Homo sapiens: one gene and its partners. The protein of the gene in region 1 purifies or fractionates together with the protein of each later gene. This does not show direct contact. Each region holds a gene or a part of one and is shown in the gene's direction. Other genes may lie near its edges.

Region 1 (3,599 bases):
TTTTAATATACTCTTTGTAAAATCAGTTATCTGTAAAACTACTAAAGTGACATAATTTAAAACTTTGTAATATATAGTTATAGAGAACTCTAGAACAGTTATATCAGCTGGAGAATATTAAGTTTTAAGACTTGTAAGCTCTAAACTTGTAGCTCTATTTTTTCAGTTATAATGATATTTAAAATTAGGAGTGCAAGAAAAGTGACATCAAGTGATTCCATTTGTAAACCAAAACAATTGTGTTTGTGAACATTTTAAACAATGCTCTTCTTTTAACTGATGATACAATTCAAGCATTAATCTTTAACAATAGACATAATTGTTGGGGGTACTTTAACTAATTCCCAAGTAATAGGTCTAATGTTTTCCTGTATTTATAACCAGAATGGAAAGATTTATGTTTTTTGTTAAGTCCTTCTTTGTATTTGAAGAATACTTGTTGTGACTGTATTTTACCCTGTGATATTATTCATGTGTGAATATTCTCATTGGAAAGGGGGAAAATATGTCTCTTAATAGTTATGATACTTTATATCTCTATTGTGAGATATAACCACATTCAGCCTTATGGTTAGTTATAACCATTTTGCTTATTAGAATGTAAGATTAATGAGGGCAGATACTGGGTTTCATGGCTCATTGTATCTCCCTCAGTGCCTTGTAGGAGTAACCACTCAAATACTTGATGAATAAATGTGATATTTTGTGTTTAAATTACATGTAGTACTAGCTTCAGTAATATGGATGCACCTTTTTCTTGGCAAGAGTAACTAATATAATGGGTCTTGGAAATGGTCTTATCCATTGTCGTAGTCTGTCTTTCATTGCTTATAACAGAATAACTGAAACTGGGTAATTTATGTAAAAAAGGAATTTATTCCTTATAGTTAACAAAAGCTGAAAAGTCCAAGGTTGAGGAGCTACATTTGGTGAGGGCCTTCTTGCTGGTGGGGATTCTGCAGAGTCCTGAGGTGGTGCAGGGCATCACATGGTGAAGGAGCTAAACACACTAGCTCCAGTCTCACTTTCTCTTCTTGTAAAGCCACCAGTTCCACTCCTCTGATAACCTGTTAATCCATTAATCCATGAGTGAATTAATTTATTTATGAGGGCAGAACCCCAGTTACCCAGTCATCTCTTAAAGGCACCATGATAACATTCATATTTACTTATTACATACCTCAAAATCACTGTATCTTAAACTGAATTTCCTATCTTCACCTTAGTCTTCTCTACTTGGGTTCCCTGTTTCAGCTAATGGAACCATTATGCTCCTAGACATTAGACCTGAAATCTCATAGTCACTTTAGTCTCCTCTCTGGTATGTGGGCATATACACATCCATATATTTGTATGATGTTGCTCGGTCTACCATGTCAACTTGCTACTTTTATCTACTCTTTTCTTTTTTTTTAAGATGGAGTCTTGCTTTGTCGCTCAGGCTGTCGTACAGTGGCACAATCTCGGCTCACTGCAACCTCTGCCTCCGGGGTTCAAGCAGTTCTCTGCCTCAGCCTCCTGAGTAGCTGGGATTACAGGCACCCACCACCATGCCCGGCTAATTTTTGTATTTTTAGTAGAGACAGGGTTTCACCAACTTGGCCAGGATGGTCTTGAACTCCTGACCTCGTGATCCACCCGCCTCGGCCTCCCAAAGTGCTGGGATTACAGGTGTGAGCCACCACGCCCGGCCTTATCTACTCATTTCTAATCCTTTCACCAGTACCCTGATTGAGGTTCTCATTACCACTCATAGACAGTCTTCTGATCAGTTGAAGGAATTGGGACATTTAATGTAGAAAAGAGAAGATTGGGGGATAGGGAGGTTAGGAGGTATGTCTTTAAATATCAGATGGGCTCTCCAATGGAAGGATTAGTTTCAGAGGTTACAACCAGGACCAGTTAGTGAAAATAATGTATAGACAGAAACTTGGTTCCACATAATATCATTTTAGCAAATCTAGTTGTTTAAAATTAGCAGGTATCATGTAGTTACTATGGATACTCTAAAACAGTTATGGATGCTCTAGAACAGATATGAAAATACACAGTTTAAAACATCATCAGGCTTTTACATTTATAGCATATTTTGAGTTTAGTACAATATTCATTTAGTACTGACCTCCCTTTTCTAGAAGTAAGTGTTCAGTCAGAGGCTGAGGGACTGCAGTTGGCAAGGATGTTTTAAAGGAGATCTTTTTACTGTATAGGTGGTTGAACCCAAGTAGTAGCTGGTTATTAGTGAGTCTGAACCAGAGAGCAGATCACAGCTCTCAGGGTGGTAGTGATTTTTTTTTTTTTTGGAAACGGAGTCCTGCTCAGTCGCCCAGGCTGGAGTGCAGTGGCGCGATGTCGGCTCACTGCAAGCTGCACGTCCCGGGTTCACGCCATTCTCCTGCCTTAACCTCCCGAGTAGCTGGGACTACAGGCGCCTGCCACCACGCCCGGCTAATTTTTTGTATTTTTAGTAGAGACGGGGTTTCACCGTGTTAGCCAGGATGGTCTCGATCTCCTGACCTCATGATTCGCCCGCCTCGGCCTCCCAAAGTGCTGGGACTACAGGCGTGAGCCACCGCGCCCGGCCATGATTTTTTAAATTCTTTTAAATTTACACATTTTCTTTCACTACTCCTCTCCACCCAAGTACTATTGATTAGGAAGGATTAATGATAGCTTGTATTGTGTGAGACAATGGTCAAGAACTACTGTTAATATTAATACTTACTAGTGCCAGGCACAGTGGCTCATGCCTGTAGTCCTAGAACTTTGGGAGGCTGAGGCGGGCGGATCACTTGAGGTCAGGAGTTTGAGATCAGCCTGGGCCATATGGCAAAACCCCATCTCTACAAAGAATAGAAAAAAGTAGCCAGGTGTGGTTGTGCCTGCCTGTAGTCCCAACTACTAGGGAACTGAGGTGGGAGGATTACTTGAGCCTGGGAGATCAAGGCATTTGGCACTGCACTCCAGCCTGGGCAACAGAGTAAGACCTTGTCTCGAAAAAAAAAAAAAAAAAAAAAAACCAAAAAAACAAACAAAAAACCAACACACACACAAAACACCAAAAAACAAAAAAAGTATTAGTTATTAGATGCTTTATAAATTCTCTTTCAGTCCTGAGATTCTTAACATCCTTCATTTCTTGTAGGGGTTAATTATACTTTGTTGATTAAATGATTTGACTCTTTACCTCTTATGTAAAGATAGCAGTCTATATAAGACTCTATAAGTCTCTATATAAGTCTCTATATTAACTTACGGTGTTACCTCTTATGTAAAGACTACTATCTCTATATAAGAGGTTAACACCGTGAGTTAATATTAAGAGCTTGGAAAGTTGCGTTTTGAAGTAGGGAGGCTCCAAGTATTCGTAGTTACCTTCGACTTATCAGAGGTTACTAAGAACCTGACATAATTAAAATGTATTTATCAAACAACTGTGTGGTAAATATTATGTTCTTCTTAGAGATAAGATCAAGGCTTAAGGCTATCTTAAAACAGCCTAGGTGTCATTAATAATTCTTATTTTGGTCTTCAAGTACATGATTGAGGTCATTTAAACTCCTTACATCTTATTTAGGTTGGTTATGATGATTACTTTG
Region 2 (3,599 bases), on another chromosome or scaffold:
GTAATCAAGAGGTCAGGAGTTCAAGACCAGCCTGGCCAACATGGTGAAACCCCATCTCTACTAAAAATACAAAAATCAGCTGAGCGTGGTGGCGGGTGCCTGTAATCCCAGCTACTCGGGAGGCTGAGGCAGAGAATTGCTTGAACCCTGGAGGCGGAGGTTGCAGCGAGCAGAGATGGCGCCACTGCACTCCCACCTGGGTGACAGTGAGACTCCATCTCAAAAAAAAGAAAAGGAGACCTCTCTACCCCACCACCTGGGAACATCATTGGACAAGCTCATAGTCAAATTTTACTTGATCCGATAATACATCAGTGGGGAGTGAGGAGGGAACAGGGTTGCCCCTTTTTTTGGGAGGTGAAGGAAAACGGTTTGAGTTTTTTAACTTTTTGTTATGGAAAAATGCCAACATATAAGAAGGAAACACAGTGGTATAGTGAAGCCCCCTGTACCCTTCTCCCAGCTTTGTTATCAGCATTACATCATTCTTGTGCCATCTGTTCCTCACCCCATCTTCATGATGATGACCTTCATTATAGTTGTTTTGGGTAAAATTGACAGACATTGAATCACATGAATGCAGCCATACAATTTTGACCAGTGATTATACCCATGTAACCCAGGAATGTCAGCCCCATTATGATGTAAAACATTCCCATTTCTTTAGAAAGTCCCTTAGGCCCCTTCCCAGTTGGAGGTTTGGAGGGTTTTGTTTGTGTTTTAATATTCTCAGAGGGCCTAATTAGTTTGTGTGTGTGGCGGGTCACCTAGCTAATGCTGTGAGCTGAAAAACGTCTGAGAGAAGATAGTACTGTTGTTCATCTCAAAATAACCCATCACAAACACTGAGCTTTCAATTCATTCAGAATATTTTTTTAGGAATAAATCTTGTAAGGTGAAAGTGCTGGGGAATATGTAACAGATCTTGTCTTCAGAGTTACTGAAATGTAAGATGTCTGCTTTTTCTCTTTTAAAGAATCCTCGCAAGGCTCGTGTAACTCGGCGTTTCATTGTAGTAGAAGGATTGTATATGAATACTGGAACTATTTGTCCTCTTCCAGAATTGGTAAGCAACCATGTTCAGCTGTAATTTTAATATTTGGACTATTTGACAGATGTGCCTTTTGTTTATGACCGCTTTTAGTGTATAACGTCTGCGTTGCTTTGCGCATTAGGCCTCATAAGCATATTTTGCTCAGATCAGGGAAGAAGAACAACACTGAATGCCAGTGCTGGCCTTCAAAGAGTAATCAAGACTGCTCTGTTGCCCAGGCTGGAGTGCAGTGGTGTGAACACAGCTCACTGCAGCCTTACCCTCCTGGGCTCAAGTGATCCTTCCACCTTAGCTTTCTGAGTTAGCTGGGACTACAGGCACATGCCACCACACCTGGCTGATTTTTCCCTTTTTTGTGGAGTAGGGGTCTCACTGCGTTACCCAGGCTGTTCTCAAACTCTTGGGCTCAAGCGATCCTCCTGCCTCAGCCTGCCAAAGTGCTGGTATTACAGGTATGAGCCACCACACCTGGCCAAAACTTAGCTTTAGCTTTTTTTTTCTCCCCCGCAAGACAGTCTTGCCCTGTCGTCAGGCTGGAGTGCAGTGGCGCCATCTTGGCTCACTGCAACCTCCTCCCCGAGGTTCAAGCAGTTCTCCTGCCTCAGCCTCCCGAGTAGCTGGAACTATAGGCGTGCGCAGACACCCCCAGCTAATTTTTGTATTTTTAGTAGAGACGGGGTTTCACCATGTCGGCTAGGATGGTCTCAATCTCTTGACCTCATGATCTGCCCGCCTGGGCCTCCCAAAATGCTGGGATTACAGGCATGAGCCACTGAGTCGGCCATACGTAGCTTTTAAGATCCAGCTTTATTTAGGTGAAATCAACGTATAAAATACACCTACTTTAAGGGTAAAGTTTGATAAGTTTTGACAGATGTATATACATCTGTATCACTGCAGCCATCCACCACCACAGTCAAGATACGGAATATTTTTATGTAAGACAATGTTTATCCAGAAAGAAAACTTTATCCAGAAAGCTTCCTGATGCCTCTTGGTAGTGAGTACCCATGTTGGCCCCAGACAGCCATTAATCTACTTTCTATTCCTGTAGATTAGTTTTACCTTTTGTAGAATTGCATATGAATGAAAGCATAGCTTGCTTTTTTGTTTTTTTGTGTTTTGTTTTTTGTTTGAGATGGAGTTTCACTTATGTTGCCCAGGCTGGAGTGCAATGGCACGATCTCGGCTCACCGCAACCTCTGGCTCCTGGGTTCAAGTGATTCTCCTGCCTCAGCCTCCCAGGTAGCTGGGATTACAAGCATGTGCCACCATGCCCGGCTAATTTTGTATTTTTAGTAGAGACAAGGTTTCTTCATGTTGGTCAGGCTGGTCTTGAACTCCCAACCTCAGGTGATCCACCCTCCTTGGCCTCCCAAAGTGCTGAGATTACAGGCGTGAGCCACCACGCATGGCCAAAACTTAGCTTTTTAATAGTGAAAGCAGCATAACTGTTTTTAGAAACCATGACCATTGAGATTTCCTTTATTGAGGTGAAATTCACATAACACAAAATTAACCAATTTAAATTGTACAGGACAGTGACATTTATTACATTTACCATGTGTGCAACCATCAACTTTAGGTCAAAAACCTTTTCATGACTCACGAAGAAGACCTCAAACCCATTAAACAGTCACTCCCCATTTTCTTCTCCCTCTAGCTCCCAGCAACTACCAATCTGCTTTCTGTCTCTATGGATTTACCTTTTCTGGTTATTTCCTATAAATGGCATCATATAATATATGACCTTTTCTTTCTGGCTTCATTCACTTGATGTTTTTAAAGTTCATTAACATTGTATACCATGTATCAGTATTTCATACCTTTTTAATGCTGAGTTATAGTCCATTGCATGGATAATACCACGTTTTGTTTTATATGTTCATCCACAGATGGATATTTGGGTTCTTTCTACCTTTTTGCTATTGCAAATAGTGCTGTTGTGAACATTTGTGTACAGGTATTTGTTTGAATTCCTGTTTTCAGTTCTTTTATGTATATATCTAGCAGGGTAATTGCTGGATTATATGGTAATTCTGTGTTTAACTTAATAAGGAACTGACATACTGTTTTCAACAGCGATTGCACCATTTTACATTCCTATCAGCTATATACCAGGGTTACAGTTTCTCTACATCTTTGTCAGCACTTATATTTTCCAGGGTTTTTTGTTGGTTTGTTTTAGCCACCCTAGTGAGCATGAGGTAGTATCTCACTGTGGTTTTGATCCTGTTTCCCCCAAATGGCTAATGATGCTGAGCCTCTTTTCTTGTTTTTTTTTTTGTTTGTTTGTTTGTTTGGCCATGCGTATACCTTTGGAGACATATCTATTCAGGTGCTTTGCCCATTTTTTAAATTGGGTTGTTTTTTTGTTTTTAAAAGAATTCCTTGTATATTCTGGATACTAGATGTTTATCAGATACATGATTTGCAAATATTTTCTCCTATTTTGTGGGGGTTTGTTTCATTTATTTGATACTGTCCTTTGACACACAGTTTTTAAAAATTTTGATGATGTCCAGTTTATGTGTTTTGTTGTTGC
Region 3 (3,599 bases), on another chromosome or scaffold:
ATCATCAACTCAATTGCTGCCTTATGAGAAAAAAAACAGTGCTTATTTCTTCATTAATTAAAAAAAATCATAAATCTCTGGTCATATGGAAAAGAAAGGATAGTGGGCTTGGCTCAGTATTTTTTAAAACCCGTAGCCAAGTCTTTGTTTCATTGAATTTTTAGCCAGCATAGCTTATGTGTACCTGCTCCCAAGCTCCCACAATACTACAGTAAAATTAAGACTTGGTAGCATAGCTGGACATACATGAGTTATTTATATACCCAACTCACTGGTGCCTTTCATTAATTCTAAAGCTAGCCAGTTATTCTGACAGGTTCATTTGCTTTTTTGCTTTGTTCTGTTGTGATGATTTGCTTTTTATTTTTAACATTTTTTAGGCTTACTTCACTTTATTTTTCTTGTATAAAAACCCTATGTTGTAGCCACAGCTAGAGCCTGGGTCCTCTGTCTGGAGACTCTGGTGTGGGTCTTGACGAGGTGGCCAGTGAATTCCTGATACGGAGACTTGGTGAATACAGTCTCCTTCCAGAGGTTGGGGGCCAGTTAGCTGTAGGTCTTGGAGATGGCATCATAGGTGGCCTTGGTGAAGTTGGCCAGGGTGGCAGTGCAGCCCCTGGCTGAGGAGTAGCAGTCATCGATACTGGCCATCATCAGCAGCTTCTTGGGCACTAGGGCTAAGAGAATGCCAGTGCCTCTGGGTGCAGGGATGAGGCGCACCAGCACAAAGCCACAGCAGTCTGTCACCTTGCAAGGGACTGCGTGGTGCTTGCTGATCTTGTTCCCCCAGTAGCCTCTGTGCACGGGGACATTGGAGAGCTTGGCCAGGATGATAGTCCCTTGGATGGCAGTGGCCACCTCCTTGGAGCAAGTGGCCATTGTAGTCCCCAGTGGCAACAAACACCTGGAATCTGGTGTGCTGGCCAGTGCGCGTCTGCTTCTGCACTGGCACAATCTTCAAAACCTCATCCTTGAGAGAGGTCCCCAGGAAAAAGTCAATGATCTCAGACTCCTTGATGGGCAGGGAGAAGTGATAGGTTTTCAGCAGGACTTCATCTTCGTGTCTTTGACCAGGCAGCTCAGCTTGGTCATGGGTGTCCACTCCTTATCCTCAGCCTTGCCTCCTTGAGCTCTGTGGCCCCGACCCTGGCCCCAGATGCCACTGCCCAAGCCTCCATGGAAGTCACTGTGGTTCCCCATCCCAGGGTCTCTGGGGCCTCTGGGCCCTCCTGCTGCCCTAGCTTCATCTGCCATTTGATGTTTTTTCAGAGAAGAAGCTGATTTGCTTTTTAAACAAATCTCACCTCAGAAAGACTAGCTAGTATCTAGTACATAAAGTCCAGGGTGAGCATCCCACATTAAAAAATCTGAAATCTAAAATGATCCAAAATCCAGAACTTTCTGAGTGCTGATGTGATGGTGCTCAAAGGAAATGCTCATTGGAACATTCAGATTTGGGATGCTCAGTCAGTAAGCATAAGGCAAATATTCCAAAACCTGGACCTGAAATCCAAAACACCTCTGGTCCCAAGCATTTTGGATAAGTGATACTCAACCTGTATATTTATGTAACATCTCAAAACTATATATAATGTGACATACAAAGTGAAGACAGCCATGTCTTGTTAAGAACTGGTGCTTCCTGTACAGCCTAGAGGCATAAAGTTAATTTCTTAGTTTTGGCCAAAATGAATCGCTAATATTTTTAAGCCATTGCATAATTTTTTGCTGTTCCAACTTGTTTAGTAGTAGTGAATTGTAGATATTAGTGAATGTGTCTGTTTTGTCTTATTTTTTGCTTATTTTATCTTAACATGGTTATTTATTTTGCCTTTGAACACTTGGAATCTGTTTCTATAATAGCCTGGATGATGGCCGTTAGGAGTGGATTGATGTGAGGAGTTTGTAGGATGAGGCTGAAGGAAAGGATTAGCCTCCTGCACTTTGTAGAAATTCTCACTATAGTGCAGAATATTAAAAAGAGTCATTTTTAAAAAGATGAATTAATGTGAAATACTGTGTGCTTGAACCAGATTTCTACAACTGCTTTTGAAAATTTAAAAAGAAAATCCAATTTGGTTAAATCTATAGGGGACTAAAAGTTTGCTGTTAAAATTTTTAGTTAATTCACTAACCCTTTTTTTTTTCTTTTTTCTTTTTTTTAACCTTCAGATGGTGAGGTCTACAGCTTTGGGACTCTTCCCTGGAGAAGTGGACCAGTGGAGATTTGTCCAAGTAGCCCCATTCTAGAAAATGCCCTGGTTGGGCAATATGTTATTACTGTGGCAACAGGAAGCTTCCATAGTGGAGCAGTGACAGACAATGGTGTCGCGTACATGTGGGGAGAGAATTCTGCTGGCCAGTGTGCAGTAGCCAACCAGCAGTATGTGCCGGAACCAAATCCTGTCAGCATTGCTGATTCTGAGGCCAGCCCTTTGTTAGCAGTCAGGATTTTACAGTTGGCGTGTGGCGAGGAGCACACTCTGGCATTGTCAATAAGCAGAGAGATTTGGGCATGGGGTACCGGTTGTCAGTTGGGTCTCATTACCACTGCCTTCCCAGTGACAAAGCCGCAAAAGGTAGAACATCTTGCTGGGCGAGTGGTGCTTCAAGTTGCCTGTGGTGCTTTCCACAGCTTAGCCCTTGTACAATGCCTCCCTTCCCAGGATCTGAAGCCAGTCCCAGAACGATGCAACCAGTGCAGCCAGCTCTTGATTACTATGACTGACAAAGAAGACCATGTGATTATATCAGACAGTCATTGTTGCCCATTAGGTGTGACACTGACAGAATCTCAGGCAGAAAACCATGCCAGCACTGCTCTCAGCCCCTCCACTGAAACCCTTGACAGGCAGGAAGAAGTATTTGAGAACACTCTTGTAGCAAATGATCAGTCTGTTGCTACTGAACTGAATGCAGTAAGTGCTCAGATCACAAGCAGCGATGCCATGTCCTCTCAACAAAATGTCATGGGAACAACTGAAATTTCCTCTGCCAGAAACATACCATCATACCCTGACACCCAAGCAGTCAATGAATACCTACGGAAACTGTCAGATCATTCAGTAAGAGAGGACTCAGAGCATGGTGAAAAGCCAGTGCCATCTCAGGTACCTGCTCAATTTTATAAAATAAAAGTGTGTCTAGAGTTGAACTGTATGGGCTTTTCTTTAGAAACTTTAAAATGAGTAAGGCTTGGTAGCATTTTTTATTTTTTGAGTTTGATTATAATTTTGTTTTATCAGGCAAGCCTAGATAAAGGAAAGAACCTGGATTAATTCAAAATCACTCTTTATGTTTGTTCTGGCCCTTTATGATATTGAAAGGTGTCATGTTGGGCTTGTTTTATAAGTAGGAGCATTTCATTTTTTTTTCTTGCTAGTACTTTTTTTCTATGGCTAAAGTACTGAATTTTGGTGGGCCCTGAATAGTTTAATATAACTAGAGATTCACAAAGATTCTTCTTACTTGTGTTTGTAACACTCTTCAGAATTCTGTAGAGAAAAGTCTTTTCCTTCTTTAACAGGGAAGATTGTTTTGTGGCAGATCCTTCAATTGTAGGCAGATTTAAAACTTACAGGCAATTACATGTTTCAGTT
Region 4 (3,599 bases), about 51 Mb from region 1:
AGGAGTGGTCCCATGAGGTAGTCCGTGGAGCCTACTCCACGCTGTGTTCTTTCGGTCCAACCCGGAGGCTCTGAGAGCTACACCTGTGGTTCAGTGAGTCAGCCAGATGTGTGATTCCAGCCCTTGGCTGCAGACAGGTGAGCATTCTCTAAGTGCGGTCGGCCATCCACATTTGTGGGTCCTGCATCCATGGAATTACGTAGGGTCAACCAACTGTGGAGCAAATATATTCAGGATGCAAAACATAAAAAAGAACAAGACAACAGTAAAAAATAATGCAAATAAAAAACAGTACAGTGTAACAATTATTTACATAGCATTTACATTGTATTAGGGTATTATAAATAATCTAGAGATGATTTAAAAGTATATAGGAGGACCTACATAGGTTATATGCAAATATACACCATTTTATATCTGGGACTTGAGCATCCCTGGATTTTGGTATCCATCGGGATCCTGGACCCTATCCCTGGTGAATACTGAGGAACAACTGTACTCTTTCCTTGTTGCTTCTCTGTAACCACTTGAATCTCTCAGATCCCCATTGGGGCCCTTGTCTTGGAGGACAGCCTCTTCAGTGTCCCCAGTTATATGTATATATTATATATATATATATATATATATATATACACACACACACTATATATACACACACACACACACACACACACACACACAAACACACATTATATATTTCTGTTTGTTTTGTTTTTTTAAGACGGAGTCTTACTCTGTTACCCAGGCCGGAGTGCAGTGGCGCGATCTTGGCCCACTGCAACTTCCGCCTCCCAAGTTCAAGTGATTCTCCTGCCTCAGCCTCCCGAGTAACTGGGATTACAGGCACCCACCACCATGCCCAGCTAATTTTGTATTTTTAGTAGAGATGGTGTTTCACCATGTTGGCCAGGCTGGTCTCGAACTCCTGACCTCAAGTGATCCACCCATCTCGGCCTCCCAAATTGCTAGGATTACAGGTGTGTCACCACGCCCAGCCTGGTTTATATATATATGTTTTTGTTTTTGTTTTTGTTTTTGTTTTTGGCAAAGTCTCACTCTGTTGCCCAAGCTGGAGTGGAGTGGCAAGATCTCGGCTCACTGCAAACTCCACCTCCTGGGTTCAAGCGATTCTCCTGCCTCAGCCTCCCAAGTAGCTGGGACTTCAGGCACGCACCACCATTCCCAGATAATTTTTGTATTTCTAGTAGAGACGGAGTTTCACTATTTTGGCTGGGCTTGTTTTGAACTCCTGACCTTGTGATCCGCCCACCTCGGCCTCCCAAAGTGCTAGGATTGCAGGCGTGAGCCACCGTGTCCAGCTGGTTTATATATTTTTAAAGGGTTGAGAGAAAAAAAAGAATATGCCGCAGAGACTGTACATCACTGGCAACTTCTAAAATATTTACTGTCTGGCTCTTTATGAAAAAGTTTGCCGACCCCTGTTACTAGTTATTCCCAAGCCTAGCTCATTACCAGACAGATACCTTGATGCGTGTGATTTAAAGCATACAAAAAACGATTCTGTGGTCAAATGGGCTAGGAATTAAATATGCTTCTTTATCTTTTTAGAGACAGGATCTCACTCTGTCACCCAGGCTGGAGTACGGTGGTGTGATCATAGCTTATTGTAACCTCAAACTCCTGGGCTCAAGCGATCCTCCCATCTCAGCCTCCCAAGTAGCTGGGACTACAGGTGCATGCCACCACATCCAGCTTATTTTTATAGAGACAGGATCTCACTATGTTGCCCAGGCTGGTCTCGAACTTCTGGCCTAAAATGATCTCCTGTTTTAGGAGTGCTAGGATTATAGACACAAGCCATAGCACCCAACCTAAATACGTTCCTTTAGTACAGAACTTCTAGGGCCTTATTCCCATAAGTGTTATAAATGTTTGGTGTCTTTATTGTGTACCAGATATTCCACTGAGTACTTTATATGATTTCATTTAATCCTTATCAGCACTGTGCTTGCTGGCCAGTAGCTGTGCCCCCATTTTACAGCTAAGGAAGCTGAGGCACAGTATGGTCTTGACCAAAAACCTTCAGCTAGTCATATATAGTGAGAGGGTAGGTGTTGTTACCATTTTATAGGTGAGGAAACTCACAAAATGAAATATCCTTCTCAACGTCACTAGAGAGTGGCAGAGTTTAGAGACAAAGCCATCTGATTTTGGAGCCTGTGCTCAGCTTTTAGCAGACACACTGATTTCCAAGAATTGCTAGGATGTTTCTCAGTGCAGTTGACCACAGGACTCTCTGGAAAGCCTTCAGGACTGAACTTCCTCCAGACAGTTTGGGAAACACTGCATGTGTCTATTATGAAGCCATCAGCTGAGCTCATCCCCCGTGCACTCCACAACGCTGAGGCTCTGCACATGGCTCACCAGTGCCAGGTGCTGCCAGTCAGCAGTGCCGTGCTGTTTGCACAGCAGCCTGCATACGTCTATATTGCCCAGCCCGTTTCACCTGGCGGGGTCACACAAACCACCCCCTGGTATTGTTAGCACGTCCACATAATGGCATCTCCACAGCTGTGTCATCCAGAAGAAACCCATAGCCTTGATTAACCTTTGTAATAAGACTCCCTATTTGCATGCACAGTGATAGGTGTGAAGTACAACCTTGTACCGTTGTACACTGTCAACTAGAAAATAAAACAGCACACTTGAAACACCCTTGCCTTCTAGCAAAGATCCCATCTTCCCACACAGAATGATGGCAAGAAAATGAGGTCTAAAATGTGTAGAAGTAGTAGAAGAAATAATCTCTTTTTCTGTTTGGGTTTTGTTCCCCAGATGGGGTCTAGAAGGAGAGGCAGCCTGGAGGACTGGGTCTGCTCTCCAGGCATTATGGAGGTGGGTTTTCTTTTGCAGCAAATTCAGGTGCTTTTTTTTTTTTTGTAGCAAATTGCAGCAAAATCAAAGGCTTTTTCTATTTGGAACCAGAGTTGGGGCTTTCGGTCAAGTGGTGCCCTGGATTTTCCTCCCCAGATACCTGTCAACTCCCAGTCACTTGCTCTCACCTGCCTCATATTCCCCCAGTCCTAGGGCTCTCAGGCCAGGCTTCTAGCAGCATCACTTAGAAAGTTAGCACCGGGAGAGGAAGCAGAACCAAATTCACGGTGAATCACGGCCATAGTGACATTTTCATCATGAGTGTGGATGAACAAAAGGCCCTCATCCCGATTCTTTCATCTGTGCATTCAGAATGTGAAGAATACACTTGCCCGTGTGGCTGCCGTTGGTAGAGGTCAGTTTTTGGCCTGTTTGATTGATGGGGAAAGCTGTGCAGCCACCTGTTTTGGACCCGGCTGGAGACATCCCACTTGAAGACTCAAAGTCAGGTGTCCTTGTACTGATTTTCTGATTCCTTCTTCTCAGGTCACAGAAGATGTGAATTCAAGTATCAAGACATTTTTTTGTCCCAATGATACCTACAATGACATGGCCACACTCTTCTTCAACCCGCAGGAGTCTGCCATCCTCCAGCTCTTCCACCAGGATGGTGAGTGTCTGCACTGCAGCCCAATCGTGGGTGATTGGTGTCATCTCGGACACAGCCAGGCTTGCCCTTCATTCCAAGCAAGACCAGGACTTCT

What was found.
Region 2: the proteins of ATG4C (region 1) and SPTLC1 purify together in Homo sapiens (affinity purification with mass spectrometry; one large-scale study listed by BioGRID and IntAct). This does not show direct contact.
Region 3: the proteins of ATG4C (region 1) and ALS2 purify together in Homo sapiens (affinity purification with mass spectrometry; one large-scale study listed by BioGRID and IntAct). This does not show direct contact.
Region 4: the proteins of ATG4C (region 1) and CLCN6 purify together in Homo sapiens (affinity purification with mass spectrometry; one large-scale study listed by BioGRID and IntAct). This does not show direct contact.

The regions. Positions count from the first base shown.
Region 1 is NC_000001.11:62,790,602-62,794,200, forward strand, and holds part of ATG4C (cysteine protease ATG4C), read left to right. Parts: intron 1-3,599. UniProt on the Homo sapiens protein: Cysteine protease that plays a key role in autophagy by mediating both proteolytic activation and delipidation of ATG8 family proteins.
Region 2 is NC_000009.12:92,052,872-92,056,470, reverse strand, and holds part of SPTLC1 (serine palmitoyltransferase 1), read left to right. Parts: intron 1-976; coding exon 977-1,066; intron 1,067-3,599. UniProt on the Homo sapiens protein: Component of the serine palmitoyltransferase multisubunit enzyme (SPT) that catalyzes the initial and rate-limiting step in sphingolipid biosynthesis by condensing L-serine and activated acyl-CoA (most commonly palmitoyl-CoA) to form long-chain bases.
Region 3 is NC_000002.12:201,760,392-201,763,990, reverse strand, and holds part of ALS2 (alsin), read left to right. Parts: intron 1-380; exon of another isoform or gene 381-1,277; intron 1,278-2,172; coding exon 2,173-3,110; coding exon of another isoform or gene 3,111-3,188; exon of another isoform or gene 3,189-3,599. UniProt on the Homo sapiens protein: May act as a GTPase regulator. Controls survival and growth of spinal motoneurons.
Region 4 is NC_000001.11:11,830,134-11,833,732, forward strand, and holds part of CLCN6 (H(+)/Cl(-) exchange transporter 6), read left to right. Parts: intron 1-3,381; coding exon 3,382-3,505; intron 3,506-3,599. UniProt on the Homo sapiens protein: Voltage-gated channel mediating the exchange of chloride ions against protons. Functions as antiporter and contributes to the acidification of the late endosome lumen.